Homo sapiens: one gene and its partners. Changing the gene in region 7 together with the main gene of any one other region gives a genetic interaction. Each region holds a gene or a part of one and is shown on either strand. Other genes may lie near its edges.

The links.
Region 1: changes in TRPC6 (region 7) and SP3 together harm fitness less than expected from each alone (positive genetic interaction), as found in Homo sapiens cells (one large-scale study listed by BioGRID).
Region 2: changes in TRPC6 (region 7) and PLCD3 together harm fitness less than expected from each alone (positive genetic interaction), as found in Homo sapiens cells (one large-scale study listed by BioGRID).
Region 3: changes in TRPC6 (region 7) and ALDH5A1 together harm fitness less than expected from each alone (positive genetic interaction), as found in Homo sapiens cells (one large-scale study listed by BioGRID).
Region 4: changes in TRPC6 (region 7) and WDR20 together harm fitness less than expected from each alone (positive genetic interaction), as found in Homo sapiens cells (one large-scale study listed by BioGRID).
Region 5: changes in TRPC6 (region 7) and PMM2 together harm fitness less than expected from each alone (positive genetic interaction), as found in Homo sapiens cells (one large-scale study listed by BioGRID).
Region 6: changes in TRPC6 (region 7) and GATAD1 together harm fitness less than expected from each alone (positive genetic interaction), as found in Homo sapiens cells (one large-scale study listed by BioGRID).

The regions. Positions count from the first base shown.
Region 1 is NC_000002.12:173,954,387-173,958,993, reverse strand, and holds part of SP3 (transcription factor Sp3), read left to right. Parts: intron 1-2,761; coding exon 2,762-4,121; intron 4,122-4,607. UniProt on the Homo sapiens protein: Transcriptional factor that can act as an activator or repressor depending on isoform and/or post-translational modifications. Binds to GT and GC boxes promoter elements. Competes with SP1 for the GC-box promoters.
Region 2 is NC_000017.11:45,125,428-45,130,034, reverse strand, and holds part of PLCD3 (1-phosphatidylinositol 4,5-bisphosphate phosphodiesterase delta-3), read left to right. Parts: intron 1-4,607. UniProt on the Homo sapiens protein: Hydrolyzes the phosphatidylinositol 4,5-bisphosphate (PIP2) to generate 2 second messenger molecules diacylglycerol (DAG) and inositol 1,4,5-trisphosphate (IP3).
Region 3 is NC_000006.12:24,535,053-24,538,529, forward strand, and holds the end of ALDH5A1 (succinate-semialdehyde dehydrogenase, mitochondrial isoform 2 precursor), read left to right. Parts: 3' UTR 1-2,155; downstream 2,156-3,477. UniProt on the Homo sapiens protein: Catalyzes one step in the degradation of the inhibitory neurotransmitter gamma-aminobutyric acid (GABA).
Region 4 is NC_000014.9:102,146,097-102,150,703, reverse strand, and holds part of WDR20 (WD repeat-containing protein 20), read right to left. Parts: intron 1-4,607. UniProt on the Homo sapiens protein: Regulator of deubiquitinating complexes. Activates deubiquitinating activity of complexes containing USP12. Anchors at the base of the ubiquitin-contacting loop of USP12 and remotely modulates the catalytic center of the enzyme.
Region 5 is NC_000016.10:8,811,337-8,815,943, reverse strand, and holds part of PMM2 (phosphomannomutase 2), read right to left. Parts: intron 4,307-4,607; coding exon 4,231-4,306; intron 2,954-4,230; coding exon 2,838-2,953; intron 1-2,837. UniProt on the Homo sapiens protein: Involved in the synthesis of the GDP-mannose and dolichol-phosphate-mannose required for a number of critical mannosyl transfer reactions.
Region 6 is NC_000007.14:92,452,875-92,457,481, forward strand, and holds part of GATAD1 (GATA zinc finger domain-containing protein 1), read left to right. Parts: intron 1-1,627; coding exon 1,628-1,811; intron 1,812-3,497; coding exon 3,498-3,688; 3' UTR 3,689-4,607. UniProt on the Homo sapiens protein: Component of some chromatin complex recruited to chromatin sites methylated 'Lys-4' of histone H3 (H3K4me), with a preference for trimethylated form (H3K4me3).
Region 7 is NC_000011.10:101,503,234-101,507,840, forward strand, and holds part of TRPC6 (short transient receptor potential channel 6), read right to left. Parts: intron 1,566-4,607; coding exon 791-1,565; intron 1-790. UniProt on the Homo sapiens protein: Forms a receptor-activated non-selective calcium permeant cation channel. Probably is operated by a phosphatidylinositol second messenger system activated by receptor tyrosine kinases or G-protein coupled receptors.

The DNA of each region.
Region 1 (4,607 bases), on a different chromosome or scaffold from region 7:
TTTCAAATCTATTCTCATAATCTTAGCACTCACAATGATCTTGGGATTGCACAGTGCTCAATAGTTTATAAAATTTAATATTTTTCTTCTGATTCTTATGCCCCTGCAAGGTAATGTTTTTCCGGTTGTTGACATGAGAAAATTGAGTTGCTGTAACTCACACAATTCCACAGTGTAGCCAGAACTAGAACTCAGTTCTGAGCTTTTTTTTTTTTCTTGTGTAATATATTGTCGAGTGTAGTTTTGGCATAAATCATCTAGTAGTTTTCTGATTCAATGTGTTTTTTCCATTCCATTTAGAAAATAGGGTATTCAGCAAATTTTTTTAAAACTGCAAATTTATTAAATTAAAAAAGTTCCTTTTCTTGCTTGATTCTTTTCCTTAAATTACCTGTTGCTTTTTTTTTTTTTCCCCCATCGTTGTGCTTCACAGGTATTTTAATAATGCTTTTCATTTCAGGCTTATTCAGAAAAGTTCGGAATACATCACTTTGCTCTAGGTTTAGAGATTTTCCTTCAATTAATGGCCTGAATTGCTGAGAAAAATGGCACTACAGTTTATTTTTATCTAGCTTCTGGAGAGGGGATGACTTGGGCAATATTTACTCAGATTTGTCATTTGCGTTAGCTGTATTTATTTTCAAGGAATTTCTTGACTAGAAAGCTGTTCAGTGATGGTTGAATATCTGCCTTTATTACTATTTTGTAAAAAAAAAAAAAAAACACTTTAGGTGCTGTAAATTTGACTTTGTTTTTTTTAAAGAAAGGAAAAGGGACAAAATGCCAGTATCATAAAATTAATTTGTGTCTGAGTTACTATATTCTTTGATAAAAGTTCAATACCTGTAAATTTTATGCTGGTCAGAAAAAATTTCAGTGGATCCTCCAGGTGAGCAATAACCTTAAGAAGATAAAGGTTAGATTTTAGACACACTTTAGTGTAGATTTTAGTATATAGATTTAAATATTTGTAGTTTACTTAAAATGCCAAGAGACCGAAATGAAACATTTGTCACTGTAATGTTAGGAAAGGTGACTTAACATTGTAATTTCTATACCAGATTGAAGTTGCAGAGTGACATGTGACTTTAATGTCTGATGCTTCATTTTAAAATTGTTTAGTAAATATAATTTAAGTGTATTTAAGACAGATCGCTATTTTATAGTTCAGGCCTAGAGATTTGTATTGGGTTCCACAATTTCTCAGCCTTTAGTCTCCTCCCTTTCTTTCAGTCTCCTTCATTGAGCCTTAGTTTATCTTTATAAGACACAGATGTGATTGCACCACTCACTTGCTTATAAACCTTTTATAGCTTTCACTCACTATCTACAGGATAAAGTCTAAACAATTTAGTGGGATCTGTGAAGCCATTTACAAGCGTTGATAAAAATATCTAGTCCTGTTCCCCATTACTTTCCTCTATGAATATGAGCCTTTTTGGGATCTTTTCTTCAACTCCAAACTGCATATTATTATTTAGGGTTTCTTTTTGTGATTTTATTGTTTCTATGCTTTTATTAGTGCCTCTTTTTTAACTGACTACAGGAAAATCTTATATTCTAATACTACTTTATCTCTGTATGAAATCTTTTTTTTCAATCTTGTGTCTTCCACAGAGTGTTTTGATCATATGACTAGTCTGTGCTACTTTTCACATTGTATTAGCATGGATGTGTGTATGTCTGCTTGGATTGACAGTGAACCGTTTGAAGATTGGGATTGTATGTCATGGGTTTACTCACGTGTGTATTTCATCTTGGTAAATTACGTTCAAATGTTTGAATTCAGTCATTTAACTGTGGTTCATCCACTGAAATAACTGTATATATTTCTCAACTATGTCTTCATGAAAATTAGGTAGTGAGTTTCTTTAAGAAACTTAAGATTTTTTTGTTTATCATATTTGCATTAAGTTTTATAGAATGGTTTATGTTGAGAGAACTGTGTATGTCTCAACTGATTTTTATGGTCCCATTGAGATTCCCATTGAGAATATAATGAAACCCTAGATTATCTTTCTCTCCCTCAAATTGTATTAATACACCAGAATACAAAAGGTATATGCCAGACATTCTACTGAAAACTTAGACTAGTAAGTAAAGTCACAGTGTGTATCCTCCAGCTTCTGATCCTAGAGAAACCTTTCAAATGGGGCTACGTTGTCATGTGGTCACAGGGCAATGACTTTTTCTCATTAAGTTTTTTTAAGGTCTTTGTTTTTCATTAGTTCATGGAAAAAGTAGAGTTTGATAGCTTAATGGAATAGCCCTAGCCATGAGTTTACTTTAGAGTATGTTAATAGATGCCACAAAAGAGTAGATTTCATTGTTTGATTTTAGGCTTATAGCAATAAATCTTTTCTAAGTCGGATGACTTAATACACTATGCTTATGTTTCCTTTTTATACACAAATATAATGCACCTGATTTGGTCATAGCCATCTCCACTGTTTTGTTTTGTGTTTTAACTGTGTAGTGTTAGAGATCATAGATGCAGGATTAGAAAATTGGTCTGTGGTTGTGATGAACATTCCGAGAATTTTTTTTATCCCACTCAAATAGGATGAATTGTCTTTGCAGTAACAAAACTGGAAGTGATAATTATTGTAGTTCATATAGTACTGCTCCTGTATTTGAACTCCATTGTGTTTTAAGATAAGTTGAATTTTCAGGTAGTAGGATTTATACCAGTTTTTAGAATTTTTTGAGGGTTGATTTAAATATACCACAAATATATCACCTTTTTGTTTTCTTCATCCAGACAGGTGATTTGGCTTCTGCACAGTTAGGAGGAGCACCAAACCGATGGGAGGTTTTGTCAGCCACACCTACAACTATAAAAGATGAAGCTGGTAATCTAGTCCAGATTCCAAGTGCTGCTACTTCAAGTGGGCAGTATGTTCTTCCCCTTCAGAATTTGCAGAATCAACAAATATTTTCCGTTGCACCAGGATCAGATTCATCAAATGGTACAGTGTCCAGTGTTCAATATCAAGTGATACCACAGATCCAGTCAGCAGATGGTCAGCAGGTTCAAATTGGTTTCACAGGCTCTTCAGATAATGGGGGTATAAATCAAGAAAGCAGTCAAATTCAGATCATTCCTGGCTCTAATCAAACCTTACTTGCCTCTGGAACACCTTCTGCTAACATCCAGAATCTCATACCACAGACTGGTCAAGTCCAGGTTCAGGGAGTTGCAATTGGTGGTTCATCTTTTCCTGGTCAAACCCAAGTAGTTGCTAATGTGCCTCTTGGTCTGCCAGGAAATATTACGTTTGTACCAATCAATAGTGTCGATCTAGATTCTTTGGGACTCTCGGGCAGTTCTCAGACAATGACTGCAGGCATTAATGCCGACGGACATTTGATAAACACAGGACAAGCTATGGATAGTTCAGACAATTCAGAAAGGACTGGTGAGCGGGTTTCTCCTGATATTAATGAAACTAATACTGATACAGATTTATTTGTGCCAACATCCTCTTCATCACAGTTGCCTGTTACGATAGATAGTACAGGTATATTACAACAAAACACAAATAGCTTGACTACATCTAGTGGGCAGGTTCATTCTTCAGATCTTCAGGGAAATTATATCCAGTCGCCTGTTTCTGAAGAGACACAGGCACAGAATATTCAGGTTTCTACAGCACAGCCTGTTGTACAGCATCTACAACTTCAAGAGTCTCAGCAGCCAACCAGTCAAGCCCAAATTGTGCAAGGTATTACACCACAGACAATCCATGGTGTGCAAGCCAGTGGTCAAAATATATCACAACAGGCTTTGCAAAATCTTCAGTTGCAGCTGAATCCTGGAACCTTTTTAATTCAGGCACAGACAGTGACCCCTTCTGGACAGGTAACTTGGCAAACGTTTCAAGTACAAGGGGTCCAGAACTTGCAGAATTTGCAAATACAGAATACTGCTGCCCAACAAATAACTTTGACGCCTGTTCAAACCCTCACACTTGGTCAAGTTGCGGCAGGTGGAGCCTTCACTTCAACTCCAGTTAGTCTAAGCACTGGTCAGTTGCCAAATCTACAAACAGTTACAGTGAACTCTATAGATTCTGCTGGTATACAGCTACATCCAGGAGAGAATGCTGACAGTCCTGCAGGTGAGTCTTAAGTTATGTCATGCCATAAATAAGTTCAGTGATAATACATAGAGGGAAATTTTTTGCTTTAGGTATTTATCAGCATCAGACTCACATTAGAATTAATGATCAATGTTTGTATGAAAATATGTTTGTATGAAAGTAGACATCAAAGTATCTTCCAAATTATTCTTTGAAAGTTTGTAGTTTTTGAAGTTAGGGATTCATGTTTCTATTATGCCAATTAACATTTATAGTTTTTTCTTAATTTTATATTTGTTTTGACATCTGATTGATATTGTCAGGCATTATAAAATTTTTATTTGGCAGGTAGGGTGTCTTGGTTGGCCTTAGTGTGATGTGAATTAAAATTTTTATGCATTATATTTGGTTGAGGAGTCAGGTTGGTATAGTGAAAACATGGTACAGGGAGTAAATATGCCTCAGCCACTTGCTAGGTGTGTGATTTTGACCAAGTTATTTTTCTTTCGCAAACTCAGTTTCCTT
Region 2 (4,607 bases), on a different chromosome or scaffold from region 7:
GGCCATCAGAGGCCAAGGCCTAGGCCTGTCACCCAGGTAGCCTCCCCCGCCTCGCTCTGCCCCTGCCATCACCACACCCCTTAGCCTAACAGAGAATAGATTTTATATCAAATCAGGTCAAGGGACTAGGGCAGGGAGTGGCTTAGAGGGGCCTGAGGAAGGAAAATCCTTTAGGGCCACACTAGGGAGACCCAGATGAGCGGGGAAGGAGGAAGAAAACACCCCCACAGTGAGTGGGAGTCCTTTGTCCCCCCTCCAGTCCCCCGCTCCTGGGCTGGGCTGCGGACTTGCAGGGAATCATTGAAGAGAGAGGAGCGCTAGAGCCCAGTGAGCACCCGCCATGCGTGAGGCACTGTGCTGAGCTTGCATCAGACCTGATCCTGCTTAATCCTCAGGCATCCCTGTGCGGGAGGTGCTGTCCTCATGTCACATTACAGACGGGAAGCTCAAGGCGGAGGGGTGAAATCACCGCCCAAGGCCACATGCCTGCCTGCTGCCAGAGCCTAGTTTTCCATGATGGCTCCCAGTGAATACTTTTTGTTGTTGCTGTTGTTGTTAGTTGTTTATGAGACAGGGTCTCATTCTGTCACCCAGGCTGGAGTGCAGTGGCATGATCATGGCTCACTGCAACCTCAAATTCCTGACCTCAAGTGATCCTCCCACCTCAGTCTCCCAAGTAGCTGGGACTCAGGAGACTGGGAGACTGGGTACCACCACATCCAGCTAATTTTGTTTCTGTTTTTTGTAGAGTTGGGGTCTCACTGTGTTGTCCAGGCTGGTCTTGAACTCCTGGGCTAAAAGAATCCTCCTGCCTTGGATTCCCAAAGTGCTGGGATTACAGGTGTAAGCCACCATTCTTGGCTAGCCTGATGAATACTAATGAACAATTTTGTCACTGTCCCAGGCGCTTTTCGCATATTATCTCATGTAATGCTCACACTAATATGAGGTAGGTGGTACCAGTAGCCTTCTCTTACAGATGAGGAAACTAAGACTCAGAGAGATTTGGTAACTTGCCTAGGGTTCAAAGCTGGGAAGTAGCTGAGAGAAAATTTGAACCCAGGCAGTGTGGCCCAGAGTCCGTGCTTGTCACACAGTGACTGATAGAGAAGCTGATACCTGCAGGGGGCCTCCTGGCCGCTCCTCTCCCATGGGGGCCCTGCCAGCCCCCAGGAGCGTCCTCACAGGGCTGCCAAATAAAATACAGAACACCCGGTTAAGTTTGGAATTCCGCTAAATGCGGAATATGGAATGTATTTATACTAAAAAATTATTCTTTATCTGAATTTCACATTTAACGGGTGTCCTGGATTTTCTCTGGCCACCCTGTGTCCCCACAGCCCCGTGTGTGCCTGTGCCCTGATGCTCCGCCCCTGCCCCTCATCCTCCCCATGGGCAGAGGCCTGAGTGGGCAGAATCCTGCCCCCTTGCCTCCCCAGCCTACACACACTACCAAGTGCCCCTGAGCGAGAGGGCTCGGCCCATGGCCTGCCTGGGATGTCTTCCGCAGGGTGAGTGGGACTGCTGTGGGTGACTTGGCAGGTGAGGGTCTTCAGAACAACCCCCAGCCCTGGCAGGTGCCTGGCCTGGGTGGTGGGTAAGCTGGGTGGCCCTCCAGTCTAAGCAGGGGCATGCCAGGTGGGACTAGGGGGCTGGCTCTGCCAGGCCCTGTGGTCCCCCTCACATCTTTCCCTGTCCCCTACCCTGACTTCCGCACCCAACCAGGTTTCATGCCTGTTCTGGCCCCAGAGAAAAGGGTGCTGCCACCCCCACTTGCTGTGTCCCACCCGGGGCCAAGGGAAGCACCGCCTGCCTTTCCTGACTTTGTTGATTCTCCAAGGAATGTTATGGACTCTGGCACCGAGCCCCCGCCAGGCTCCAGCCCTGGGTGTGGCAGCCAGCTGGGTCACGGGGGACATGCTTGGTGCCTGAGGTGTGGAGGCTGCCTGCTGGCTAAAGGATTAGGGTGGGAGGGTCTTTGGGACCCCTCGCCATTGTGTGTCCTCTCCTAGAGCCTCACAGCCCCGGCCACCTGGAAACGCTCTTTCTCTACTCCCTGCTCGGCCTTGGCCACAGCTGCTGGCTGTAGCAGTTCCCTGCATGACTCGCATTCCTGTGGAGCCCTGTGTGCACCTCCCGAGTGCGAGCCGCCTATTTCCCCCTGGCTGGCCCACCTTCCACCCTCTCCACCCATGAACCCTGTACGCACACACACACTCACACGCACACACTCACACACATTCACTCACACTCATACACACACACTGTCTCACGCACACACACACTCCCCACCTATGCATACACCCCACACACACCCTGCCCTGCCTGCATGCCACCCCTCCGGGACACGCCTGGACAGAACTCCCACCCTCCCTGCCAGCTGCCCTGGCGCCTGTCTCCACTGCACAGCCTCTATATCCATCCCTGCCTGGGGGCGACCTGCACTATCTTCAGCACACAGGGCTTGTCCTCTCTGAGCTCAGTGGTGCACCTGTGAAAAGGGTGGGATTTGGGGCCCCTTCCAGCTCTGACATGAGGTAGTTTCTGGTCCCTGGTCTTGGCTACCCTTACAGAACTGCTCAGGCCCCAGACCATCCACGCCCCAAACCGCCCGGGCTGCAGGTGGAAGTTGAGAAACTGGGCCTGCCCTTTCCTCAGCACGCCTGACCCCTCTCTGAGGCTGAGATAAGCGGGCAGCTTGGGAAGGTGTCTGAGCCCCAGCTGACAACACTGAATTGGGCGGGAGGTGCCGCTGTCCTGGTCTGGGGAAGGTACCCCCTGGAGGCCATGGGACTAAGGGGACAGATGGATCAGAACACGTGGGTGCCTCTTTCCACCCGGGGCACTAACTCACTTCCCCAGAGCCCTGCCTCAGTTTCCTTCTTTGTGATCATTTACTGAGCACCCACTATGGGCCAGGCCTAAACCAGGCTCCATGTGCTTGTGCCTGTTGTGGCCACACACAGCCCTTTGGGGTCAGACTCCCCCAACTTCCACCACATTTCAGCCCCACCGGGTGCCGACCTGGCTGTCTGCTTCTTTAACAGCATTTTTGAGATATTCATTCACATACCTTATAATTTATCCATTGAAAGTACACAGTGCGGAGCACTTTGGGAGGCAGAGGCTGTTGAATCACTTGAGGCCAGGAGTTTGAGACCAGCCTGGGCATCATAGTGTGACCCCAACTCTACAAAAAAATTTAAAAATTATTCAGGCCTGGTAGTGCAAGTCTGTAGTCCCAGCTCCTCGGGAGGCTGAGGTAGGTGGATTGTTTGAGCCCAAGAGTTTGAGGCTGCTGCAGTGAGCCATTATTGTGCCACTGCACCCCAGCCTGGCTACAGAGCAAGACCCTGTCTCAGAAAAAAAAAAAAAGTATACAATGGTTTCCAGCATATTATATCATTAAACTTTAAAAATTATGGTAAAATAGGCCGGGTGCTGTGGCTCACGCCTGTAATCCTAGCACTTTGGGAGGCCGAGGCGAGTGGATCACTTGAAGTCAGGAGTTCGAGACCAGCCTGGCCAACATGGTGAAACCCCATCTCTACTAAAAATACAACAATTAGCCGGAAATCACTTGAACCCGGGAGGTGGGGGTTGCAGTGAGCTGAGATCGTGCCACTGCACTCCAGCCTGGGCAACAGAACGAGATGCTGTCTCAAAAAAAAAAAAAAAAAAAAAAAATAGGCTGGGCGCAGTGGCTCATGCCTGTAATCCCAGCACTTTGGGAGGCTGAGGTGGGCGGATCATGAGGTCAGGATATCAAGACCATCCTGGCTAACACGGTGAAACCCCGTCTCTACTAAAAAATACAAAAAAAATTAGCCAGGTGTGGTGGCGGGCACCTGCAGTCCTAGCTACTCAGGAGGCTGAGGCAGGAGAATGGCGTGAACCCAGGAGGCGGAGCTTGCAGTGAGCCAAGTTCGTGCTACTGCACTCCAGCCTGGGCAACAGAGCGAGACTCCATCTCAAAAAAAAAAAAAAAATATGGTAAAATATATATAATGAAATTGGCCATTGCAACCATTTTTAAGTGGTTAATTCACTGGCATTAATTACATTCACGCTGTTGTGCAACTATTACTGTTGCCTATTTCCAAAACTTTTTCATCATCCAAACAGAAACTAACCATCAAGCAATAACTCTCCATTACCTCCCCATTCCAGCCCCTGGTACCCTCCCAGCTACTTTCTGTCTCTATGAACTTGCCGCTCTGGGTACCTCACATGGGTGGAATCACATAGTATTTGTCGTTTGGGGTCTGGCTTCTTTCACTTAGCATGATGTTTTCAAGGTTCATCCATGTTGTAGCGTGCATCAGATTTCACTCCTTTACATGGCTGAATACTATTCCATTGTATCGATAAACCATATTTTGCTTATGCACTCATCTGTCTCATATGTTTTTTGTTTGTTTTGTTTTGTTTTGTTTTTTGAGACGGAGTCTCGCCATGTCTCCCAGGCTGGAGTATAGTGGCACAATCTCAGCTCGCTGCAACCTCTGCCTTCCGGGTTCAAGCATTCTCCTGCCTTAGCCTCCCTAGTAGCTGAGATTACAGGCGTGGGCCACCATGCTCGGCTGTTTTCTATTTTTAGTAGAGAC
Region 3 (3,477 bases), on a different chromosome or scaffold from region 7:
CAAATCCAATTAGGCGGCCAAGTAGGTGGAGACGAAGCACCTTCCTTTCCCCATCTCTGTCTGTGTAGACTCCACTTACATCTTGTGGTTATTCTGGGTTGTGGAAGGAAAATGTGAATGAAAGTAGTGCTGGATGCAATTACTCCTGAACCCCACCTAGGATTTAACATCCCTCATTGAGCCACTGGGAAGCTATGGTTGAGTAACTAAAGGTCTGGCAAGACCCTGGGCACACAGGGAGCTGCCTAGCATCTGGCCTGGAGTGTACTAGCCACATTCCCAAGGTCCCAAGGAGAAGGAAGAGCTGAAATTCATCTCCTAGTGACAGTGCCCCGGCCCTGTCAAGAATCACATACTCAGCATTTTGACAGTTAATGTCTTCTCTTTATTTGTGTAGTTTTTAGGTGGTTTTATATAACATTTTAATTACTTGTGATTTAGATGTATCCATCCTTTTTCTATTAAGAATACAAATGCTGGGCTGGGCACAGTGGCTCACGCCTGTAATCCCAACACCTTGGGAGGCCAAGGCAGGCAGATCACGACATCAGGAGATCGAGACCATCCTGGCTAACACGGTGAAACCCCGTCTCTACTAAAAATACAAAAAAAATTAGTCGGATGTGGTGGCAGGTGCCTGTAGTCCCAGCTACTCTGGAGGCTGAGGCAGGAGAATGGCGTGAACCCAGGAGGCGGAGCTTGCAGTGAGCAGAGATCACGCCACTGCACTCCAGCCTGGATGACAGAGCGAGACTCCGCCTCAAAAAAAGAATACAAATGCTCCAACATTATTTTTTATAACTCTGGATTACCGATGCTGAGATGTGTGCAGGAATACTTCCAAATAAATTTTTAACATTGTAAGCCAGTAGATTCTTTGGCTGGGTGGCAAATTTTGAGTCTTCTTGCATATTTGGCTCATGGGTTCATAAATTGAGGCCAGAGACTCATTGTATATCCTTGATCAATTTTCTAATTAAAGGAAATAGCTTATTGTTTAGTAAAATGGCCCTTGGTTGTGGGAAGAAAGAGAATTATTTTTAACTGAACGTTTTTGTTGTTTTTTAAATAAAGTAGCCATATGTAACGGGATTTTAAAAATATATACATTTTACAACATGGACTAGAAAAGGACCATTAGATCAGGGGTTGGCAAACTATGGCCCACGAATCAAACCTGGCCTGCCACCTGTTTTTATACAACCTGTGAGCTAAGAATGGTTTATATGTTTTCAAATGATTGGGCAGAAAATCAAAAGAAGAACAATATTTCATGACACCTGAAAATTCTATGAAATTCAGATTTCAGTGTCCATAAACAAAATGTTATTAGAGCATAGCCACACCCATTCATTTATGGTATTGTCTGGGACTGCTTTCTTGGCAGAGTTGAATAGTTGGGACAGGGACAGTATAGCCTGCAAAGCCTAAAAGATTTACTACTTGTCTCCTTAAAGAAAAAGTTTGCCAGCTCCTGATCTAGACCAAGAGGGAGATATTGACCTTACTTGCATTTATCCGGCATTATTTCAACACCTCCTGTGAAGAAAGTACTTTTCTGGCATAGCTACCGTGAGTTCTCAGCAGGAACTTCCCAGCGATGATAATGTACATGAAATTAGCCACGTAACAAGAGTCTATTTGCCTTGAAAAAACAATTATCCTTGAACTTCCTCCAGCTATGCAGGGATTCTCATTAAAGAGCTGATCTGCATCTGTTTATCCATTTTAGTAGCTTTTAAATATGATTTTATGTGAAGTGCCATTTCTTTATTCTACTAAAGAGAGACAGCAGAAATAAAGATCAGAAGCAAATGTGAGCAAATCTGTTTTACTGTTAACTTCAATTATGAACTTGAAATTGTGCCACATGACTTTTTCCTCTAAAAACTGGATCCTAGTGTTTTAATTACCTGTGTGCAGCTATTTTAAATAGCATTTTACTTGAATAATATGTATGTTGTCATTGTTTCATGCTATACTTTGTGGGATAAAACTTGGGAATGAGTGTGGTAAGAAATTTATAAAGTTTTGCTTTTAAAACGTGGACATAACTCATTTTTCTAGTTTTTGACAATTGTGTGTTTTAGTGTCTAGTCTGCAGAGAGCTGTGTGATTAATAAACGTGGAATTAACAGAATTTCCTCTCCCTGTATTAAGGTGTCTGGTTGTGCTTTTTTCCCCCTACTTGGTGATCTTTTGAGTTTTTATTGGATGATATTAGACCAGTTTGCATTTGTGTAAATAGCACTCCCTCCCCCAGAGAGCCGTAATCAGTGAGTGCCTTGGGGAAGGAGCCAGCATGTGAAATGATGTGCCCTAAAACCCAGAGAAGGGCCTGTCCATGGTGTGCGCTTATAGAATGTTTGCTAAGCTGAACTGAGAATTTACCTGGTTTGCAGAGGTGGCGGTCACAGAAAGGTGTATAGGCCAGCCGTCACAGATTGGCCTATCTCTCTCTCCTACACGCCCCACTGTTATGACTTCCTGGGCTCAAACAAGCCTCTCACCTCTGCCTCCTGAGTAGCTGGGACCACAGGCACCTGCTACCACACTCAGTTAATTTTTCTTTCATTTTTTGAACAGTCAGGGTCTCACTGTGTTGCCCAGACTGGTCTCAAACTCCTGGGTTCAAGCCACCCTCCCGCCTCAGCCTCCCAAAGTGCTGGGATTATGGGAGTGCACCATTGTAGCCAGCCCTCACCATAATTTAGAACACAGACAGCACTGCTGCCCAGTGGTTAGTGGACATTTTTGCAAATGTCGTCTCACATTTTACAATCACGTATTGCTCGACAACAGAGATATATTCTGAGAAATGCGTCATTAGGCAGTTTCGTCCTTGTACGAACACTGTAGAGTACTTACACAAACCTGGATGGTACAGCCTCCTACACAGCTAGGCTATACGGTCTAGCCTATTGCTCCTAGGGCTACAAACCTGCACAGCATGCTACTGTACTAAATACTGTAGGCAGTTGTAAGACAATGGCAAGTATTTATGTATATAAACATAGAAAAGGTACAGTAAAAATCAAGTATAAAAGATTTAAAAATTACACTTGTAAAAGGCACTTACCGTGAATGGAGCTTGCAGAACTGGAAGTTGCTCTGGGTGAGTCAGTGAGTGACAGTGAATGTGAAGGCCTAAGGTATGACTGCACACTACTCTAGACTTTACAAACACTCTACACTTAGGCTACACTACATTTATTAAATAATATTTTTCTTTCTTCAATAATAAATTACCCTTAGCTTACTGTAACTTTTTACTTTATAAATTTTTAAAATTTTTTAACTTTTTGACTCTTTTGTGATCACACTTAGCACTTAAAGCACAAACTAATTGCACAACTGTATAAAAATATATTCTTTTTTTATATCCTTGTTCCACAAGCTTTTTTATATTTTAAATTTTTTTAAACTTTTTTGTTAAAAACTAAGACACAATTACACACATTAGCCTAGGCCTACAAA
Region 4 (4,607 bases), on a different chromosome or scaffold from region 7:
ATTAAATGAAATATTAAGGCAAGACAGAGCTCTAAAGCAGAGATCCAAGTAAGTAAAGAGAATGAGCACCTGTACAAGTTTTACTGTAGCAGAACAAAAAAGGGTAGTAAAAGGGTAAGCTGGCTGTGAGTCAACTAAAGAAAAAAACAGCTTCATGGCAGAGCAATAATCTACAATGCGGTAACTAAGATGTTAAAATATTCCCTCTTACTGAATTATTCTTACTTTTTTTTGAGATGGTCTCATTCTGTCGCTGAGGCTGGAGTGCAGTGGCTCAATCACAGTGCAGCCTCGACCTCCCCACCCTGGGCTCAAGCAATCCTCTTACCTCGGCCCCGAGTAGCTGGGACTACAGGCGCACACCACCACACTCAGCTAATTTTTAATTTTTGTAGAGATGGGGTCTCACTATGTTGTCCAGGCTTGTTTCCAACTCCTAGCCTCAAGAAATCCTCCCACCTCAGCCTCCCAACGTGCTAGGATTACAGGCGTGATGTAATCCTATGCCAGGCCTGATTCTTACTTTGTAAATATAAAATCCTTATAAATTCCTTCCTCATGAATGATTCTTGCTTCTTTCTTATAAAACCTATATATTTAAGCTATTTTCCTATTGATACAAAGCAAGATAAGCTGTAACACAAACTGATTTGGCATGTTTTTAGAATAATATATCTACTTTTTAAAAATCTACTACAAAATAGAATCGACGTCTGGGTGCGGTGGCTCATGCCTGTAATCCCAGCACTTTGGGAGGCCAAGGCGGGTGGATCACGAGGTGAGGAGTTAAGAGACCAGCCTGGCCAATACAGTGAAACCCCATCTCTACTAAAAAATACAAAAATTAGCCGGGCGTGGTGGCATGTGCCTGCAGTCCCAGCCACTCTGGAGTCTGAGGCAGAGAACTGCTTGAACCCAGGAGGCAGAGGTTGCAGTGTGCTGAGATCGAGCCACTGCACTCCAGCCTGGGCGACAGAGTGAGACTCCGTCTCAAATAAATAAATAAATAAAATAGAATTGATGACACAAAATATTTCTCAATTTACAAATTACCAACTGGCAGAGAAGCTGAAAAGTTGAGAAAAATGCTAAAAGAGCAGTGGACATCTTACGCTCAATCAGAAATAAAAATAAAGCATTTCTGAAATTAGAAATACAAGGCAACAAATTTAAAAATTTATAAAAAATATGATCTGCACACAACATTTTAGGGCAAATTATCTATTTGAAACCCAATGCAATATTCTTCTACTAGGCAGAGAAATACTTTTCCACTTCACCTTTACTCCTTAATTCCACTTGATACTTACATTGCTATGCCACATGCAGAGCACATATCCTCTACTTTGTATTATAATGATAAATACAAAATCAGCCGGGAACAATGGCTCACATCTGTAATCCCAGCACTTTGGGAGCACAAGGCAAAAGCATCACTTGAGCCCAGGAGTTCAAGGTCAGACTAGGCAACACAGCAAGACCCAGTCTCTACAAAAGAAAAAAATGTATTTATGTATGTATTTTTTGTTTGTTTGTTTTGTTTTGAGAGAGTCTCACTCTGTCGCCCAGGCTGGAGTGCAGTGGCACGATCTCAGCTCACTGCAAGCGCCACCTCCCGGGTTCAAGTATTCTCCTGCCTCAGCCTTCCGAGTAGCTGCGACTACAGGCACCCGCCACCACACCCAGCTAAATTTTTTTGTATTTTTAGTAGAGAGGGGGTGTCGCTGTGTTAGCCAGGACGGTCTCAAACTCCTGACCTCGTGATCCGCCCGCCTCGGCCTCCCAAAGTGCAGGGATTACAAGCGTGAGCCACCGCGCCTGGCCTACAAAAAATTTTTTAAAAATTATCCAGGCACAGTGGCACATGCCTGTAGTCCCAATTACTCAGGAGGCTGAGGCGGGAGGATCACTTGAGCCCAGGAGGTTGAAGCTGCAGTGAGCTATGATTGTGCCACTGCCCTCCAGCCTAGGTGACACAGTGAGACCCTGTTCCAAACACACACACACACACACACACACACACACACACACACAAAGCCAAACTCTTTAAAGACAGGAGTGTTAAATACACTTCACATCCGCCACAATAGACAGCAGTGCCTTGTATATACCAGTCATCAATAAATGCTTGATGAATGAGGATTATGATTTTTTTTTTTTTTTGAGACAGAGTCTCAGCTCTGTCACCCAGGCTGGAGTCCAGTGGCACAATTTCCGCTCACTGCAGCCTCAACCTCCCAGGCTCCAGCAATTCTCCCACCTAAGCCACCTGAATAGCTGGGGCCACAGGCGTGCACCACCACACCTGGCTAATTTTTTCTTGTAGAGATGAGCTCTCACTATGTTGCCCTGGCTGGTCTCAAACTCCTGGGGCTCAACCAATCCTCCTGCCTCGGTCTCCTAAAATACTGGGATTAAGGGCAAGAGCCAAGGTAACTTGTCACTGATGCTGTCAATTTCAAGTGTCCTGAAAATTAAAACTGAAGTCTACCAATTAGAAATGTCTACCAATTAAGGTTACTTCTATTTTTAAGGTCTTCTCCTGAATAACCAAACAAGATCACATTTCATATTACTGCACAAACTAACCTCACTGAGAAACAAACAGAATTATTCTCTGAGATACTAAATTCCAGACGACAAAAATCTTCCTATTTTTAAAACAAGGTTCTTGGCCAGGCGTAGTAGCCCACGCCTGTAATCCCAGCACTTTGGGAGGCCCAGGCAGGTGGATCACCTGAGGTCAGGAGTTCAAGGCCAGCCTGGCCAACATGGGGAAACCCCGTCTCTACTAAAAAGACAAAAATTAGCTGGGTGTGGTGGCAGGTGCCTGTAATCCCAGTTACTCGGGAGGCTGAGGCCTGCGAATGGCTTGAACCCGGGAGGCAGAGGTTGCAGTGAACCAAGATCATGCCATTGCACTCCAGCCTGGGGAATAGAGTGAGACTCTGTCTCCAAAACTAAAACTAAAACTAAAATAAAATAAAACAAGGTTCTTTAGCCATACAGCCAAACCACTCAGTGACAAAATCCACCATGTTTTGATGCTTGCTCAAGCTCAAGTTTGCCATCAAAGCACTTTACCCTTAAGTCACTATATTAAGTCAATGATAATAAATATCGTATAAGTGACACATTTCTTGAGGGCAGAGACTCTGACTACACCCAGCATCTAAAACAGTACCTCATATCTGGTAGGCATACTCCATGAATATTTGCTGAAAGAATGGCATTCATGACTATCTCACGGACTTCCATGACATATTCCAGGTGCTTCTCACCATTGCTCATATCTACCCATGAAGTCCTCCTTTTTTGGGAAGGTCTCGCTTTGTTGCCCAGGCTGGAGTGCACTGGCACGATCTTGGCTCACTGCAACCTCCACCTCCTGGGTTCAAGTGATTCTCCTGCCTCCTGAGTAGCTGGGATTACAGGCATGCGCCACCATACTTGGCTAATTTTTGTATTTTTAGTAGAGATGTGGTTTCCCCGTGTTGGCCAGGCTGGTCTTGAACTCCTAACCCCAGATGATCCACCCGCCTCAGCCTCCCAAAGTGCTGGGATTACAAGCCACCCATGCAATCTTTCAATATCTCATGACCACCCTCCTCTTCAAAGCCAAGAGAACCCAGGTATAGTATGAAAGTATCTCCTGCTTTAAATGATACATTAAGATGCTTTCCCCTCAGTATGCAAAATTCTAAAGTCAAATAAATCATCAATATTTCAGAAGTCAGCAAATAGCCCTTAATGGAAAAGAAACACAAGTTTCCAGTCATTCAGCAACCCTCTGTGACCTACTAAATTAAGTACAAGATTTCTCAAAGTAAATCTAATACAAAAAGTTACAGACTTCTAAACCTCTTTCTAAATTATAAAAGGGGAGCCAGGGAGGTGTGAAAAATTACAAAAGGGGAGAATGGTGTGAACATGACCCTCTCTGAAGCAGTAAAATATCTAAAACAAGTCTGTGGGGGGGAAATTTTTTTTAAAGGCATCTAGTTCACCCTCCCACACAAAGCAGGAATTCCTCCAATGTCACCAACAGGTGGTCCTGCAGTTTTTGACAAAGAGACAGAACATTTCCCATATGAGCATTCCCATAACAGAACGCTCATTCTCTCTCAAGTCAACCCATTACCTTCTTCTTTAATCAGGATCTAAAAATACTTTAGCTTTTATCAACTGACTCTTCTTCTGGCCCCAACTTCATCTCAGCATCATGAACATAAAGCTCTTCTAGCCGGGCATGGTGATTCACACCTGTAATCCCAGCACTTTGAGAGGCCGAGACGGGTGGATCACAAGGTCAGGAGTTCAAGACCAGCCTGGCCAAGATGCTGAAACCCTGTCTCTACTAAATATACAAAAATTAGCTGGGCATGGTGGCAAGTGCCTGTAATCCCAGCTACTTCGGAGGCTGAGGCAGGAGAATCGCTTAAAACCCGGGTGCCAGAGGTCACAGTGAGCCAAGATCAAGCCACTGCACTCCAGCCTGGGCGACAGAGCAAGACTTCGTCTCAAAAACAAACAAACAAACAAACAAACAAAAAAACTCTTCCAGCATAAATACCTAGAAATCACAATGTTTTCAGCTTGCTTTCCCA
Region 5 (4,607 bases), on a different chromosome or scaffold from region 7:
GAGTTTCTTATACATTTTGGATACTAGCCCTTTTATCAGATATATGGTTTGCAAATATTCTCTTCCCCTCTGTAGGTTGCTTTTTCATTCTGATTATTTCCCTTGCTGTGCAGACACTTTTTAGTTTGACGTTGTCCAACTTGTTTGTTTTGCTTTTGTTGCCTGTGCTTTTGGTGTCACATCTAAAATATCATTGCTTTTTCCCTATGTTTTTTTTCTAGGAGTTTTACAGTTTCAGGTCCTGTGTTTAAGTCTTTAATCCATGGGTAGATGGCCAAAAGGACGAAGTCAGGATCTCAGAGAGGTATCTGTACCCCCGTGTTCACTGAAGCATTATTCATAATGGCCAAGATACGGAAACAACTCATGTGTCTACTGACAGAAGAATGGATCAAGAAAATGGAGTATATTCTGACCGGGCACGCTGGCTCACGCCTGTAATCCCATCAATTTAGGAGGCCAAGGCAGGTGAATCTCTTGAGGCCAGGAGTTCGAGACCAGCCTGGCCAATGTGGCAAAACCCTGTCTCTACTAAAAATACAAAAATTAGCCGGGCGTGGTGGCAGGCTCCTGTAATCCCAGCCACTAATCGGGAGGCTGAGGCACGAGAATCACTTGAACCAGGGAACCAGGGAGGTGGAGGTTGCAGTGAGCCAAGATGGTGCCACTGCACTCTAGCCTGGGCGACAGAGCGAGATTCTGCCTCAAGAAAAAAAAAAAAAAAAGAAAGAAAATATAGTGTATTCATACCATGAAACATTATTCCGCCTTAAAAAATAAGGAAACTTGCCATTTGTGCCAGCATGAGTAAACTGAGAAGACATACTGAGTGAATAAGCCCCTTACAGAAGGATGAATACTGCATGATTCCCCTTGTATCAGATATCTAAAGGTGCTAAAGTCATATAAGCAGAGAAAAGAACGGTGGTTGCCAGGGACGGGGCGGTGGAGGAGGGAGATGGAGAGTTGTTGTTCAATGGGTGTAATGTCTCAGTTATGTAAGATGTGTAAGTTCTACAGATCTGTTGGACAAACAGAAGTGCCTATAGTTAACAATACTGTATTGTACACTTAGAAACTTGTTAAGAGGGAATATCTCATGTTAAGTGTTCTTATAACAATAGCAACAAAAAAATCCCAAACCGCCCCCAAAACCAAAGAGGCACAATGATTAAACTCACGAAACTGTGAGCGTTAAATATGTACAGCTTTTGCTGATCAATTATACCTCAATAAAGCTATTTAAAACATACAAAGAACAGGTAGACTTCTTCTGGTGCCACCAGCTCTGTCATTAGCCGTGTGACCTTCGGCAAATCCCTTACCCTTTATGGGTTTCAGTTTTATCATTCTGAAAATAAGTAACAAGCCTCTACTACCACTGTGTACCCCTCATGCTGGAAGACTGTGACGTGGGGACCCTGCTGAAAAGCAAATCTTTCATGGGTAGATCTTAGCAGTGCAGCAAGGATTTTGGAGTGGACCAGAGATCAGAGGGATGAGAAACTCTGAATATGCAGCATTTATGATGCACCTGCTAGGTGCAGGATGGCGAGAAAGCCTGACACGGGCCTGCTGATGGCAAGGTAACCAACACCCCCAGCCTGCATGTGGGAGGGAGGCAGAGGGGCCCAGAGGATGGGAGTAACTGAAAAGGTGATGGGGCTGGGCGCGGCCTGTCATCCCAGAACTGAGAGGCCGAGGTGGGTGGATCGCTGAGGCAGGCAGATTCCTTGAGGCCAGGAATCAAGACCAGCCTGGCCAACATGATGAAACCCTGTCTGTACTAAAAATCACACCTGTCATCCCAGAACTTTGAGCGGCCGAGTTGATTGGATCACTTGAGCCCAGGGGTTTGAGACCAGCCTGGTTAACATGGTAAAACCCTATCTCTACTAAAAACACAAAAATCAGCCAGGTGTGGTGGTGCATGCCCGTAATATCAGGTACTCAGGAGGCTGAGGCACAAGGATTGCTTGAACCTGGGAGGCAGAGGTTGCAGTGAGCCAAGATTGCACCACTGCACTCCAGCCTGGGCAACAGAGCGAGACTCTGTCTCAGAAAAAAAAAAAAAAAAAAAAAAAAAGAGAAAGAAAAGGAGCTGGCCCAAAGCTGGGTGGTGATGAGCCTCCTCTTGGGCCTTTGATGGCAGCAACGCCTCTCTGACCTCCTGGGGATCCACCTTGCCCCACGGAGAGGACACCTGGGGGCATTTCTTCTATGTATTCCTCCTGCTGGCCCTGGCCTTTAACACTGGGCTCTGCTCTCAGTTCTCAGTTTAGATTTGGCCCTGAACTCGAGATTTCTGACATCCCTTGGGGGCAGCTCCAAGCACCCGCCGTGTGTGATGCCTGGGACTCACTTGGCCTCTTTGCTGTTGCTGGTGTCCTCTCCTGTTTCAGGCTCATGAGATCATTCCCTATCCTCCCATCGTTCATGGCCCCTCGTGTTCAACTTAGAATGAATGCCTCGGGTGGACAAATACAGTGGAAAAATGAGGTTGAAACAGCCAGAGCTTTGAAACGCAGAGGGTTTGACAGTGGCACCGGGGACTGGTATTCTGGAAGGCACATAGGGTGGCCAACGTTTAATTCCAAAGCCAAGGTGAAAAGGTTCAACTAACATGCAGTGTGATCCTTGCCTCCACAGAGGCGTCGGGGGTCTGAGCTTAGAGGGGAAGGTGGCTCAATCACCCACCTCTCCAGGACAGAAGCCACTGCTCAGTTTGAGCAGGGCGGGTGGGTAAAGTGTAGGTACAGGAAAAACAGCCCAGTTGTCAATTTCCCCCATCAAGCGCAAATGCAACAATGAAGGTGCACAAACACTTCTCTACTTACTGGCATAGTTTTGTCTCCAAAGAAATAAATGGTCTTATAACCGTCATTTTCCACATGTCGCAGACAGTATCTCTTGTCCCATCCATCAGGAAAGACATCAAAGCTGATCTGGCCTCCTGCCGGGTGGGGACGGGGCACACAAAGGCAAAAGGTGAAAAAGGGGCTAATGATATGTCACTGAAAAAAACAATTTACTCTTTTGTCAGTTAGTGGGTTGCCAAGGTTGATTTTCAGTACTCTAGTTTGCTACTTAGACTACTTCATGCATAGGTTCTAGAAATTAATTCTACATTGTTTTTTTCCAGCATTATTTCACATAGGTCTAAAATTGAGGCACAGAATGCCAACTCAGAGTGAGAAATGCATTTGCGTTTAAGCGCCCTGTCAAGCGTGTGGTTTAAAGGAAGCATGCTTATGAAAAATCGGATACCAGCCTCATTCTGCTGTGCTTGTCTCGGGCTTTAACACACCCTCAGGGGGAAATGCCCGGAAGCAGGTTGCATCCGGCATATTTTGCGGGAAAAATGAGAATCTTCACTGAAGGTGATTTACAGGCAGTGCTCACGGGCAACAAAAACCCTTTCAAAGCTTTGTCAGAAAGATGTCCATCTCACAGTTCAGGAAGACAAAAAACCCACCCACTCATCTGTTAAATATAATCCCTTTGCCATTCCAGTTTTCCTACAACCTCTACCTTGATGAAAGCTAGTAAAATGAGGAGGCTTTGAGCAATGACTCATTAGCACTGACAAGAGAAATCGGTGTGCAAAGCATTTGGCAGGAATATTCTAACAAAAGACAAGCCTGAGATGTCCGTGCTGCAGGAAGAACTCTGCATTAGACACCAGAAACGTTCACACACTGGCTGTGTAAACAACAGCTTTGTGAACTTGGACAAGTCTCTTCTCCTTTCTGGGCCTCAGTTTCTTGATCTGTAAAAGCCACCCAATTGGCCCCTAAGGTTCCTTGCTGTTGAAACATTCTATGATTCCAAAACATCGGTCTAGTTTACCTAAGGGGTTCAATTCCATGTCTCCCTTATGGAGTTCACTATAGTGCTTCTCTTCTGCCCAAAGGTGTGAGAAGTTCCTACTCTTTAGTAATCAAAGTGCTCCTCTTTTGATGAGAGGAGTCCAGGTAGGAAGAATGCTGTTGGGTAAGAATTTAGAACCAAGCCCAACAGCGTGTAAGCTGTTTCTTGACTAGGCAAGTCCTATTATGGCTAATTATGCAGAAAAGAGAGTGGTTGGTTTTTGTCTATAGACTGGACTGCTCATTTAATCTTCCTGCCCACCTAAAACTGCACATACTTCATTATCAATAGCTCACTGGCCCACAACAAACTCTGGGAAATGGGTATCCAAGTTTGGAACACAGGCAATATATACAATACCTATGGAAAACGTGAGGCCTTTTCCAGCAAACTCTTTCCGTAGATCTGCTACAAACTTTTGTCTTATATTTTCTTTCTGAGAAAAACAAAAAGATACCAATTGTTTCTTGTATTGCAGTTTAGAAAGCACAGTTTTAACTACTGGCCACAAAGGTAGGATTATCTTATTGATTTATTTATTTGTTTAGTTTTTGAGATGGGGGTCTTGCTCTGTTGCCCAGGCTGGAGCGCAGTGGCATGATCATAGCTCACAGCAGCTTCAACCTCCCAGGCACAAGTGATCCTCTTACCTCAGCCAAACAAATAGCCGGGACCACAGGTGTGTGCCACCATGCCCAGCTAATTTTTTTTTTTATTATTTGTAGAGATGAGGTCTC
Region 6 (4,607 bases), on a different chromosome or scaffold from region 7:
ATGATAAGCAAGTATTCTCATTTAGAATTTGGGAATATTGATTATACATGTGGACAAACAAACCATAAATGCAAACTATTTATATGATAAATAACTTTGGACTGATGGCTGGGAGGAAGGACCAGCTATTGATGGGTAGGAACTAGCAAGTAGCGGACTGTGGCCTGCATAGACCAGACCCATCCGTAGTGATCCAGATGAAACAGCCACCCTCAGACACTTGGATAAAGGGTCCACCAGGAAAAAACTCCTGGCCTATCAGGTGCTATGTTACAGTTCAGTTACTGGAAGTATTTCCTCAAAAGTGTTTTTATGGTTGAGGTACACATTCCTACAGCTTTACCTGCTGCCAAGTCCCTGTTTCAAGGGAAGCAGCAATGAATTACACTGTTCCCGTAGTCAAGGACAGTATATCTTACCAAGAACTATACCCACTTAAGGAGGTGCTGGATGTCATAAAGATTTGGATCAACCATTATGGGTGTTCAGAGGAGAGATTATTTCCAGCTCAAGACCCAGGGAAGAGGACATAGGATGGATACCAGAGTCATAGGGAGGATTTAACACAGGACATGTACACATTAGTTAGTTGGGTATAAAGTGGAACAGAAATGAATGAGACACAAAGCCTTGAATGCCAGAAATACTAGTAGTCCTGTTGTGGAAGGATATAAAACTCAACTGGGAGTGGAAGAGAAAGGCAGCAGTGAGTCTAGGAGATGTACAGTAGGTTGAGGTAAACATATCCTGAAGACTATAATCCAAAGATTATTTTTGGTTTGAATTTGTTTTGGTTTGAATTCATGGTATCTATTTTCTTTGAGTGGATGGTTGGGGAGGGTGGCATGTAGAATGCATTCTTACCAAATCAGCATGATTTTCAAGACAGTACAGAGAAAAGACTGCTGAGCTGATGTAGGAGCTTTGGCTGCAGTCTCTATGGCTTTCAGCAAGCCGTTTAACCTTACTACTGCTTCATGACTGTGGCTAACAAAGTAGGGATAGTACGGAGCACAGAGGATTTTTAGGGCGGTGAAACTATTAATACTCTCTTTGTATGATACTATAATGGTGGGTACATGTCATTATACATTTGCCCAACCCCACAGAATACACAGCACCAAGAGTGAACCCTAATGTGAACTCTGGTCTTTGATGATGCTATGTCAGTGTACGTTCATCCGTGTAACAAGTGTACCACTCTAGTGGTGGGAGGGGTTATTGATAATAGGGGAGGATGTGCATGTGTGGGGGCAGGAAGTATATGGGAAATCTCTCTACTTCTGCTCAATTTTGCTGTAAACCTAAAACCTCTGTAAAAAATAAAGTCTATTTTTTAAAAAGTGGGGATGGTATTACGGCAATATAAAATCAAAATACTTTATGAACAAATCTTTTCTCCAGATGTAAACTGTCATATATGCACCCTCGTATGTGTATGTATAATTTTCATTCAAACGTGAAACAACTTTAGAATTGGCACCAAACATATAAACACTGATACATTAGACTATCTCGAACACCTTTTACTGACCACTTTGAAAACTTGCTTACCTATTAAGGTTCATTCATAGCTGTGATGTTCTATTTTTATTTTCAATGTGGGATTATCTTCTGTTTCCCCCAGGGAGTATATTACCAAATTGGTGATGTTGTTTCTGTGATTGATGAACAAGATGGAAAGCCCTACTATGCTCAAATCAGAGGTTTTATCCAGGACCAGTATTGCGAGAAGAGTGCAGCACTGACGTGGCTCATTCCTACCCTCTCTAGCCCCAGAGACCAATTTGATCCCGCCTCCTATATCATAGGTAAGTTTGACAAATGGCACAGGTTTTTTTTTAACTTAGTTAACTCTCCAATATTATGTAAAAGAGTGTGTTAGTCAGCTTGGGCTGTCAGGACAAAATATCACAGACTGAGTGGCTTAAACAACAGAAAGTCACTTTCTCACAGTTGTGGAGGCTGAAGTCCAACATCAAGGTGCTGGCAACACGGATTTCTGGGGAGGCTTTTCTTCCTGGCATATAGATGGTCACCTTCTTGCTGTGTCCTCACATGGCCTTTCATGGAGTGAGAGCTCTTTGGTGTATCTTCTTATAAGGACACCATTTCTGTCAGATGAGGGCCCCACCCTTATGGTTTCATTTAACCTTAATTGCCTCCCTAAAGGTCTCATCTCCAAGTACCATCACATTGGGGATTAGGGCTTCAACATATAAATTTGGAGGGTGGCGGGGGGGGATGCAATTCAGTCCATAACAAAAAAAGCATGAGTATTATTAAGTACAAAAAAATTAGAGAGCTTTATAGAAAATATGAGGCATTTTATGTAGCTGGAGTGTGAGTGCTATCAGTTATTTTGAGTTAGAGCAATGTGCATCTACTAAGAAGTGGTATGGATAAGATTTTTTTGGAGTGACCCAGGGTTAAACTGTACTACAAGAATGTATTGCTCAGGAACTAGGTTATTTAGGTTACTTATTTATACAAACCTATTCAAAAATAATTTAGGAAAGAACTATCCCAGTTATCCCATACTTGCAAATTCTCAATATGTGTGCCTCTGCATGCTACACATGTCATCTTAGGCCTTTATAGTATAAAGGCTGATAGTTGAAATGGCAGCTGCTGTGCTTTTGTTAATTTCAAAGCTGCCAAAACAGTTGTGAGATAGACTCACAAGAATTTACTGATTAATACAATTTTTAAAGTTTTCAGATTTTTACAGTTACTTCAGACTTTTTATCTTTCTGCAGTGAGCATGCATCATTACTTTTGCATCCTGAGAACAAGCATAAGTGTGTTTTTGGAGAGAACTCCAGGGACAAATAATATACCACTGTTATTCTCACCTATATGTCAAGTTTGATACATTACCAAACAATTCTAGCCTTCTGCTTATAAGTATATAGAATTTTTATTTACCTTATCTATGGATCAGGATCTCAGCAGAGGCAGTGATGTATCAGAATCACCTTCGGGATTCCTCTACTGCCTCCTCTTTCTAATCCCCAGATTCTGATATGCATCCTTGTCCTACAGCGAGGCAGCATGGCATGAGGTCAGAACACCAGTTCTGGAGCCAGACTGTCTAGGTTCACAGCCTGCCATTTACCGGCCATGTGACTTTGGCAAGTTTCTTAGTCTCTCTTGCCTCACTTTCCTCATATGTAAAATGGGAATAATAATAGTGCCTACCTCAGAAGGTTGATGTGAGGAATGAAGGTATTGATACATGTAAACTTAGAGCAGTGTGGGTACAAAATAAACATGATGCAAGTGTTCAATCACTGTTTTTGGGAGAATGCCATATTCTTTAAGCCGTTAAAGAAGAAAAAATGATTAAGAATAATTTCAAAGTAATGCATGTTTCAAGGGCTAATGCCAGGTTGCTCCCAGAGTGGTCTCTCCCAGTGTCTAGAAATTTTAACATCTTATGAAAATGATATATATGGTCAAAAATGTATTTAACCTTTCCCTTGGCTGCCTTCCAGGGCCAGAGGAAGATCTTCCAAGGAAGATGGAATACTTGGAATTTGTTTGTCATGCACCTTCTGAGTATTTCAAGTCACGGTCATCACCATTTCCCACAGTTCCCACCAGACCAGAGAAGGGCTACATATGGACTCATGTTGGGCCTACTCCTGCAATAACAATTAAGGAATCAGTTGCCAACCATTTGTAGTTCACAAATTAAAACTGGGTTTCCAGGCCTGGTGTGGTGGCTCACGCCTGTAGCCCCAGCTATTGCACCACTGCTCTCCAAGCTGGGCAATGGAGTCAGATTCTCTTTCTTAAAAAACCACAAAAAAACTGGATTTCCAGTTCTCTAATATTCTTAGTACCACAAGATATGTCATAGGTATCTTTAAATGAAATTCTTAGCTGGAAAAGTGACTAAAAAGTTTTTCTCCTGCTACCTAGTAATAAACAAATCATTGTTTATTACTGGTCACTTAGAAAATTAAAAGGGATAGGGCCAGGCACAGTGGCTTATGCCTGTAATTGCAGCACTTTTAGAGGCCGAGGCAGGCGGATCACCTGAGGTCGGGAAGTGGATCGCCTGAGGTCAGGAGTTCGAGACCAGCCTGGCCAACATGGCGAAACCCCGTCGCTACTAAAAATACAAAAATTAGCCAGGTGTGGTGGCATGTGCCTGTAATCCCAGCTATTTGGGAGGCTGAGGCAGGAGAATCGCCTAAACCCAGGAGGTGGAGGTTGTAGTGAGCCAAGATTGCACCGCTGTGCTCCAGCCTGGGCAACAGAGTGAGACTCTTGTCTCGGAAAAAAAAAAAAAAAAAAAAGGCTGGGCACAGTGGCTCACGCCTTTAATCCCAGCACTTTGGGAGGCTGAGGCAGATGGATCGCCTGAGGTTGGGAGTTCGAGACCAGCCTGGCCAGCATGGTGAAACCCTGTCTCTACTAAAAATACAAAAATTAGCCAGGTGTGGTGGCGCACACCTGTAGTCCCAGCTACTCGGGAGGCTGAGGCAGGAGAATTGGTTGAACCCAGGAGGCGGAGGTTGCAGTGAGCAGAGATCGTGCCACTGCACTCCAGCCTGGGTGGACAGAGCAAGACTCCGTCTCAAAGAAACAAACAAAAA
Region 7 (4,607 bases):
TGACACCATTTATCTCTCCAGATACCTCTTATTAAGAGATTGACTGGTCAAAGTTCTAATTTCCTACTATTTCATATCTATCATGTTTTGTTTTTGCTGGTACACCTTGGCCTAAAATATCTTTTCCCTCATTCTCTGCCTTCCAAAATCCTACTTGTTCCACCATATACAGCTGAAATGCCATCTTACACATACTTCCCTGCAGCCTAACAGGAATTAAATATTGTTTTCTCTGAACTTCTACAGTATGTTGCTTTTACCTCTACCTGGTAGTTTTGTTTATTTTTTATTCATGTGTGCATTTGTCTCTCTAGTCAACTGTGACTTCCTTAAGCTTATTCTTCTTTCTGACCTCAACAGCATCTATCACTGTGCTCTGAACATGGAAATAGTGTTTCGTGGGAGGAAAAAGCCTGGGCTTTTCAGAGTGCAGTATACCTGGATTCTGAACCCAGCTGTGTTATTTCCCATTTGTTGATATTGGGCATTAGCGAAACTTTCTATGCCTTCATTTACCCATCTAGACAGGAACTAATAATAGCTTCTCAAGGGGAACGGATAAAGATTAGATATAATAAATGCAAAATGTCTGGCAGACAGTAGAGCATCACTAAATGGTAGCGATCACAACTTTTGCTACAATGATTATAATAAAGAGCTTGTTGAATAAACTTATAAAATGACCTAGTGTCCACAGTAACTAGCACAGTGCTGAGCACATGGGGGAAGCTGGTAAATACACCTTGACTCTGGCTTGTGGAGGGTGAAGTCTCTATTGTTAGTGACCTACCTTGAACTCTTTCTCAATATTGGCCAGAACTGCCAGTTCATTGCTAAGTTCTAAAGCCGTCATGACTGGATCTTCACTAGACAATGACAGGTAAGCCGGACTTGCCAGGCCTTTATAGGCATTAATCCTAGATCTGGAGTGGCTAAACGAGTCATGCTTCTGTTTCTGGTTGCAGTCATTGCACTTGCAGAAATAATCATGAGGCCGTTCAATCCTAGCACCCTTCCGCAGGAGGGTATGCACAATTTCATATTCCTGGCAGTGGGCAGCCAGAATGATTGGAGTCACATCATGGGAGAACCGTGTCCCATCTTCATCATAGGCATAAAAATCATCTTGCTGGAGTTCAGACTGGCTAGGGCTGGTTGCTAACCTCTTGCCTTCAGCAAAAGCCGGATGACTGAGAATTGCTTCCACAATCCGAACATAACCTTTACTAATAGCTAGAAGCAAAGCATCCCCAACTCGAGAGAGGTTTTCTTTCTTGAGAAGAAGTTCTGTAATTTCCAGATGCTCATTGGCCACTGCCAACTGTAGGGCATTCTGGCCCATGTAATCCACACAGTTAACGTTGAGTGAGTGGCATTCTTCTAACATCTTCCGCACCACTGGGATGTTACCATATTCAGCTGCATCCAAAAAGCGTTCCTCCTCTATAGATAGGCTTGTGGAGCGATCACTAAACATGTATGCTGGTCCTCGATTAGCTAACCTTCTCCCCTTCTCACGGAGAACTGTCTGCCGCCGGTGAGCCAGTCTGTTGTCAGATCCCCGGCTGCAATAAAACAGAAAGATTGTAAACAAATCACATTAAGAGCATTTTAGTGTGCCAAATGACTTGCCATTCATCTAATACAATCCTCAAGTATATTAGATGTTGTCTCATCATCTCTAGACCTACTATATTATAAAATGAAGATGCATTTATTTGTTAATGGATTCCAAGAACTTCACGTCTAAGAAAGCCAAGCACTTTGCAGATTTTAACATTCCCATTTGGGGTGGAGACTAGCAATTGCCATAATTACTCTGTGCCATTCAGATAGAAACTAATGTACTATATAGATGGTATAGACTTAGGAAAGATGTCTATATCCATACCCTCTTATCCATATGCAGTCACAATGTGATAGAGAATATAAGACTACATTTTAAGAAGTAGAGACAATAGCAAATCCACTCAAGTTAACAAATATTTATTGAGTCCCTCTGATGCCAGGTCTAGGAACTATATTCGGTCCAAGAAGGCCAATAGTGAAAAAACAAATAGATGCTTTTTCCTGCCTCTACAAGTCTTATAGACCAAAGAGAGAGATGGGCAATCAGCATACTGCTTTGTTATCAGCTGCTTAATTATAATGATAAGCCTATAATGGGGCATCTATCCCAGATTCTGAGAGAAAATGACAAGCTGAAAATGGAAGGATAAGTAGAAGTCAGGTGAGAGTGTACTTCAGGAGGGTGAGACAGGGGTTAGGTATAGGTAGAAAGTTTTCTCTAGCAGAGGTATCGGCTAGATGTTAGAGTATAGGTTTCATTAATATGGGCAATAAATGCTTGAACTCTGCTGTCCTAAAAATCACTGCAGACTGGAGAAAATTATAATCAAGTTGTCAGGTAGGAAAAAACACTTCTATGGTGCAGGCAGTGGTCAGAGCAGTGGCCAGCCTTCAACGTAGTCCTTCAATCTGTGATAAGAAGGGAAAGTGAGCCGGGTGCTATGGCTCACGCCTATAATCCCAGGACCTTGCAGGGCCAAGGTGGGCGAATCACTTGCCCAGGAAGTCAAGACTAGCTTGGACAACATGGCAAAACCCCATCTCTGCAAATAATAGAAAAATTAGTGGTGCATGGTGGCACATGCCTGTAGTCCCAGCTACTCAGGAGGCTGAGGTAGAGTATCAATTGAACCCAGGAGATCAAGGCTGCAGAGAGCCATGACTATGCCTCTGCACTCCAGCCTGGGTGATAGAACAAGATCCTATATCAAAGAAAAAAAAAAAAAAAAAGGAAGGGGGCTGTGATTCTTCCTCTGATCAAAATGCTATAATGAAGATTTTTTCGTTATTAATTCATAACTTCGTGTCTTAAGGTCTTTTGAGCTTCAAGGGATCTCATTACAATTAGAGGTTCAACTCTTACCAGTATCACTAACTGAACCCAAAGAAGGCATGTTTTTGCAGAACTGGAACAGGGCCAGGTTATAGGGGAGGCTAAAGAGGCATCCCTCTTTAAAAACGGTCACAAACTTCCCAGTATAAAGAGGACAATAAAAAGATCCAAGGGCCTCATAAGCTATCTTTCCCTCCAATATGTTCAGGTCTGGAGAATCTTAGTTGCTTTCCCTACTGGCCTTTATCAGTCTTGATTCCACATCTCCAGACAGTGCTGTCTGTGGCAGTGTGATGGACAGGAATAGAAAGGAAGATAGTAAAGTTTCAGCAACTCACAAACAGATTTTGCTTCTTGGAGGAGCTTGAAGAGTATACCACCATATTGACAAATATTTTTCATAGATTTTCATTCAACAGTGATTCCTTTAACTATCCAAGTCCTATTCAAAATCAACCAAACTGATGTTTTTTTCAAAGAGACAACTTTGTAAGTTTCGAAAATGACATGAAGGGCCGATATCAAGTTATACAACCTAATAATTTCTAAAATGGGTCATTAGATAATACATATGCAACTTTTATTATAAGAGAATAGCATCTGTAACTATTTTGTCCCATAGCTATTACTTTGTTTTTAATTCCATTTTTAATTTTAGTAAAGTTATACATGTGCATATTTTAGTTTATTCTATGTCTTGATCTCCAGAGGTGATACATTTCAATTTAACTATTTTAGCTGGTTATTTTATAATTTTAAATGTTATAACCACATAGCTTTGGTTATATTGTTACTTCTTGATTTTTCAGGTTTGGCATTACCTATGGACTTCCCATTACACCATACCTTCACGTATCTCTCTCTCTCTCTAACACACACACACACACACACACACACACACACACACACACACACAGACCCCCTTCATGGTCCCTTATCATTCCAGAATTGTTATATCATGACTTTTTTTTAGATAACTATTTACTGTTTAAAACATGACAATGCAAGTGCTAATCATAGCTAAGTGGTATACTATAGTGTCTTTTCAGGTACAGCTTCCCTATAACCTTAAACCTAATAGATAAAAATTCTCTTCATTTTCTCAGTGCTCTATATACATATGACTAATTCAATCAAACTCTCTTCTCCATCAATATAAGTCTTATTTTAATACATTCTACATATTAAGTGGGTATTTTTTTTTTTCAATTTTGGAAAATCTAGACAGCAGTTGCTGTCTAGACTTGATGCATGTATGTTCTCTTTGAATCTTCCTTTGGTATCATTCCAAGGATTCTCTTCACTTTGCTTTTGTATTGGGGTCCTTGTTTTCTGTATCCCAGATCTTCTTTTATCTGAGTTGACTTCTTTGTTCTAGTACAGCACATCTTCCAACAGCTGTCTAATAAAGCATGCATAGGTGAATTTTTAAAGAACGTGTACATCTAAAACTGACTTTGTCCTACCTCTAAACTTAACTGATAGTTTGGCTGGGTAGAGAATTCAAGGTTGAGGATAATTTTGGAGGCCTTGCTCTAATAAATTATAGTTTTGTGGCTACTATTGAGAAGCATGATGCAATTTTGATTCTGGATATTGTCTTTGTCTCTGGTGTCCTAAAATTACATGGTTGTTTATTGAAGGGAGTCTCTTCTCCACAGTGCTGCCCATTTAATCTGGAATAAAAAGTGTCCTTTTCTTAGAA